2 separate regions of the Homo sapiens genome follow, and region 2 is linked to region 1. The links come from fine-mapping of genetic effects on gene expression. Tissue or cell type: whole blood. Region 1 holds a variant in brackets; the other region holds the start of a gene. All regions are shown on one strand. Distances are between the middles of the regions.

Region 1 (2,681 bases):
TGAGCCACCGCACCCAGCTGATTTTTATTTTTATAAATTCATGGGGTACAAGTGTAATTTTGTTACGTGGATAGTTTGTGTTGTGGTGAAGTCAGGGCTTTTAGAGTATCCATTGCTGGGATAACATACATTATATCCAATAAGTAATTTCTCATTATCCAGCCCCTCCCAGCCCTCCCTTTTTCAAGTCTCCATTGTCTATCATTCCATGCTCTATGTCCACATGTACACATGATTTAGCTCCCACTTATAAGTGAGGACATGTGTTATTTGTCTTTCTGTGCCTGAGTTGTTTCACTTAAGATAATGGCCTCCAGTTCCATCCACATTGCTGCAAAAAGACATAATTTCATTCTCTTTTTATGGCTGAGTAGTATTCTATTGTGTATATGTATCATATTTTCTTTATCCAATCATCTGTTGATGGACACTTAGGTTGATTTGGTATCTTTGCTATTGTGAATTGTGCTGCGATAAACATGAGTGCAGGTATCCTTTTGTTACAATGATTTCTTTTCCTTTGAGTGGAATTCCAGCACTGGGATTGCTGGATCCAATGGTAGTTCTATTTTTAGTTCTTTGAGAGATCTCCATACTGTTAGAATAGCCTATTTGGATAATCAACTTCCATGTCTTCAGGTGGCTCTAGGGAAGAATATATAAAATAATTGGTCTCCCACCAGCTCCCCTGCTGCTGAGTAGTCTTTCCTAAATGCTGCTGAGAACACCTGTCGGTGTCACTTAGTAACCCGTCCTCCTACTGGCATTCCTGCTCCTCATCTCTTATCCTCCTTACTCCTCTGCAGGACGTGGATGCTGCCTACCTGAACAAGGTGGAGTTGGAGGCCAAGGTGGACAGTCTTAATGACGAGATCAACTTCCTGAAGGTCCTCTATGATGCGGTGAGGGCTCCATCCTCCCCTCCATCCAGGGAAAGGGAATCCCCCATCTGTGACGCTGCTGGTTGGGATTCACAGTTTTTTGAAAGGACTCCAGCTCCCTTATTTTAGGGCAGTGGGTTCTCATCAAGGTCATGCATAGAAAGGTTT[G/A]AAGTGGGAAATTCAACTGGGAGATTCTTAGAACCAGATGTGGTCTTGGTCTTAGACGGGGTGATTAGATCTAAAGAGTGCTTGGAATAGAATTCATTGCTGTCTAGCATTTTTTTTCTGGTGAAATGGATCCATTCCCTTCCCTTCCATTCCAACACACCGGCACTCACTGCATTAGAGTGGCTTATGGTTCCTGGGGACCAGTAAAGACTAGAAGCATTGCTCTTCCATCCTGAACTGTCACAACCACTTGATTTCTCCTTAGAACTTTACCTGTCTCTCCCCTTCCTACACATTGTGAATGCCAGCTCTGCTCCTACTTGAGCCTGTATCAGGTCAGTGAAGGCTTTCCTGGGGGGGCTGATGTGAGACATTTGCCCTGCAGGAGCTGTCCCAGATGCAGACCCATGTCAGCGACACGTCCGTGGTCCTTTCCATGGACAACAACCGCAACCTGGACCTGGACAGCATTATTGCCGAGGTCCGTGCCCAGTACGAGGAGATTGCCCAGAGGAGCAAGGCTGAGGCTGAAGCCCTGTACCAGACCAAGGTGGGTGGTATGGATCTCTCAGGAGATGGGGCTGGCTCTGGGGCTCTGCTTTTGATGTCTGTGAACAGGTGATCATTAGCTCAAGCCCAATAGAAGTCAGATATGAACAGACTCTCCCAGGCATCGTTGGTCCTGGTCTGATTTGAAACTACTTGACATTTGGTGCTATTCTTGCCACCTGTGGCAATTCTCACTGAGTTCACTTGAGAATGGACCCTACCCAAATGCCCCTAACACCTGGTTCTCTGTGTCTTCTTGAGTCTTAGGTCCAGCAGCTCCAGATCTCGGTTGACCAACATGGTGACAACCTGAAGAACACCAAGAGTGAAATTGCAGAGCTCAACAGGATGATCCAGAGGCTGCGGGCAGAGATCGAGAACATCAAGAAGCAGGTGGGTGTCACTCCCTTCCAGATGGAGCACAAGGCCAGGGGCCTCAGGCAGACATCTCCAGAGTGGACAAGCAGATAAAGCATCAGGCCAGAAGACCCTGAGCTTGTTGCTGGGAATTCATAGCTCTTTGTGCAAGGCATACCCAGATTTTTTCAGCAATATCCTAGTTGGCACACCATGACGCTCCTGTGCATAGGTTTCTTGGCTCTTCTTCATGGGTTTTTGCTCATTTTTATTTAATCAGTCTGGTGGAGGCATTGGTGGGCTATGGCTGGAGTGAATGAGATGCATAAGTCTCAGGGAAAGTGGGCAGAACAGATAGAATCTTGACATCCTAACCCAAGGAAAGCTGGACCAGGGGAGGGGACAGGTGTAGAGGCCTTGAAGGCAGGGCACTGCTGACCACCTATCTAATGCCTTTGTCAATAGTGCCAGACTCTTCAGGTATCCGTGGCTGATGCAGAGCAGCGAGGTGAGAATGCCCTTAAAGATGCCCACAGCAAGCGCGTAGAGCTGGAGGCTGCCCTGCAGCAGGCCAAGGAGGAGCTGGCACGAATGCTGCGTGAGTACCAGGAGCTCATGAGTGTGAAGCTGGCCTTGGACATCGAGATCGCCACCTACCGCAAACTGCTGGAGGGCGAGGAGTACAGGTGAGGGGTTAGGCAGGGTGTGAACATGAGGGCCAGAGAG
Region 2 (2,681 bases), 270 kb before region 1:
TCATCTATTCCTATCACCCATTGCCGTTATGCCGAGTGGGCACTATTCACGGTATGCGAGCTGATGGCTTTCCTGGCACTCAACACGTTAGAGTACCTAGTGTGATAAGAATAGAATAGTCTGGGGTCTGAAGGAGCTCACAGTCTAGCAGAGACGGGTCTACACACACAAGTAACTCCAATAACGAAAGCAAGACGGTAATAAGTGTTATAAATGGCGGGGGGCGGTGGCTCACGCCTGTAATCCCAACACTTTGGGAGGCCGAGGTGGGCGGATCAAGAGGTCAGGAGATCGAGACCATCCTGGCTAACACGGTGAAACCCCGTCTCTACCAAAAATACAAAAAAAATTAGCTTGGCGTGGTGGCGGGCGCCTGTAGTCCCAGCTACTTGGGAGGCTGAGGCAGGAGAATGGCGTGAACCCAGGAGGCAGAGCTTGCAGTGAGCCGAGATCGCGCCACTGCACTCCAGCCTGGGCGACAGAGTGAGACTCCGTCTCAAAAAAAAAAGTATTATAAATGAGGTGCTACAGAGGAGAGGAATCTTTTCCGTCCAGAAGAGAGAGATATGGTGATGGGAAGGGAGCAAGGAAGTCCTCATCTAGGAGTCCAACCCCCCAGAATGGCAGGTAGGCACTCCCTAGTAGGTGTTCAATAAATATTCGTGTCTTCGTCCCTTCACATTCTAACCCCAGTCTAACTTTCCTTCAGCCTACCAAAGCCCTGTGTTCCTCCACAGAATGCCGCTTCGTGCCACTGTGCCTTCTGCATCCCCAGTTCTCTCCTCCTGGAATGGAATGTTCTTGCCAATAATGAGCGAGCGGTGCCATGAAACAGAGCTCGGGAGGGTACACAGCATAACAGTTAAGCGCGCAGGCTATCGAGGCCAGCCTTCGGCCCATCCGTAAAAAGGAGATAAGATTTATTTCATAAGGCTGCACCGTGGATTAAATGGACATTCCGGTAAAGCTTTTATTTCAGTCCAGCGCGGAAGGAGGGCTCAAGTAATACTCGCAACGTTTGTGCGAGCGTGGCCACCTTCTCCGCCCGTCCCGTCTCCCCGGCGCCGCTCAAGAGCCGCCCCCTGTCCGCCTCAGCGGCGCCCAGGCACCCAGCAGCGTCCGCGCTGCCACGTCGCCTTCGCTCACCCCAGCAACAGCCGGGTTGACCAGACCGGGGCCCTGAGCTGGGTACCCAGGGCACCGGGCCGCGCCCCACACCCTGCCTGCGCCTTCCGATTGGCTCCTGCAGGTGCCCGTCGTCAGAGGCCGTTGCTGATTGGCTTAGATGGGGGACGGGGCGGGCCTCTAGGAGTGAAGGAAAGGCGGGGACCCGGATGTGTGTGGTGGCGGCGGCCGAAGAGCTTGTGTGCGGAGCTGAGAGGCCTATGGATGAGGAGGACGCGGCGGCCCCGGTAGGCGGGGATCGGGGGCGGGGTCCCGGAGGCCTCGTATCTCCCCGGAGCCTGAAGCGGAAGGCGGGGGTCCTGGGCGGGGGCTCTGGGGCCAGGGGCGGGGCCCTGCGCTCTGGTCACTGGGCTTCTTCTGTTGCTGCACCCTCGGCCCAGTGCAGGGCCTGGGGAGACTGGGCGTAGGCACACGGATGGGCTGGGGCCCGGCTGCTCCCGGGTCTCATCTCAGTGATCAGGCCGTGCCCGGGGAGGAGACAGGGCCCAGTAGGGCCGCCACTCGCCGGTGCCAAGACTGTGGGGTCTGCGCAACCAGCATCTACCTGGGGTTGAGTCCTGGCTGAGTGCCCGGGAGTGGAATCTTAGGGCTGTCTGTCCCACAGGTGCCTACTCTTCTGGGCCACGTGGTGGGTTGTAGCTACTGCATAAGAGTCGTAATTTGCGTATTGGGATCAAATTCAGCCCAGCCAAGGCTTACTAAGCACCTACCGTGTGCAAGGCAATGTCAGGCCTCAAGAAAACCCCTGTCCCAGTGTTTAGGGAATGGGAAGAGAAGAGTACTTCACCTCTTTCTCACTTTTGGCTCCCAGGAAAAATCATTCATTCATTTATATGTAGGGACTGATGGTTGTTTAAATACCTGGATCATCCCACCCCCATCCATCGGCGCTGCTACCGACTTAGTGGATGTCATTTCTCATGTGAACTGCTGCAACAACGTCTGAATTGTTTGCCCACATCTGTTCTTGATCCTCTTGTGATCAGTTCTCCAACCAGCAGCTGGAATGATCTTTAGGAACTGATTAAGATCGTGGCTTTTTTTTTTTTTTTTGAGATGGAGTTTCTGTCACCCAGGCTGGAGTGCAGTGGGACGATCTCGGCTCACTGCAAACTCCACCTCCCAGGTTCAAGCAATTCTCTTGCCTCAGCCTCCTGAGTAGCTGGGATTACAGGTGCGCACCACCACGCCTGGCTAATTTGTTTGTATTTTTAGTAGAGATGGGGTTTCACCATGTTGGTCAGGCTGGTCTTCAACTTCTGACCTTGTGATCCTCCCACTTCGGCCTCCCAAAGTGCTGGGATCACAGACGTGAGCCACCAGGCCCAGGATCATGGCATTTTTTTTTCTTTTTTTTTTGAGACAGGGTCTTGCTCTGTCAGCCAGGCTGGAATGTAGTGGCACAATCAGAACTGACTGCAGCCTTGACCTGCCAGACTCAAGCCATCTTCAGTCTCCTTAGTAGCTGGGACTACAGGTGCATGCTGCCACACCTG

The links. PIP is the estimated chance that this variant, and not a neighbour inherited with it, causes the effect.
Region 2: SPRYD3 starts here. The variant in region 1 is fine-mapped to the expression of SPRYD3 in whole blood (TOPMed, PIP above 0.99). The same link has a PIP of 0.9 or more in lung, sigmoid colon and stomach.

What each region holds. Positions count from the first base shown.
Region 1 is chr12:52,807,604-52,810,284 of GRCh38, reverse strand. It overlaps KRT4 (keratin 4), which reads left to right. Exons shown (of 9, transcript NM_002272.4): 4 at 807-902; 5 at 1,435-1,599; 6 at 1,866-1,991; 7 at 2,421-2,641. Among named protein-coding and RNA genes, the nearest start is that of KRT4, 5.2 kb to the left of the region's middle. The variant G/A (reference allele first, on the strand shown) is at 1,050.
Region 2 is chr12:53,078,042-53,080,722 of GRCh38, reverse strand. It overlaps SPRYD3 (SPRY domain containing 3), which reads left to right and starts at 1,333. Exons shown (of 11, transcript NM_032840.3): 1 at 1,333-1,412. The coding sequence starts at 1,390. RefSeq lists a silencer at 1,353-1,632.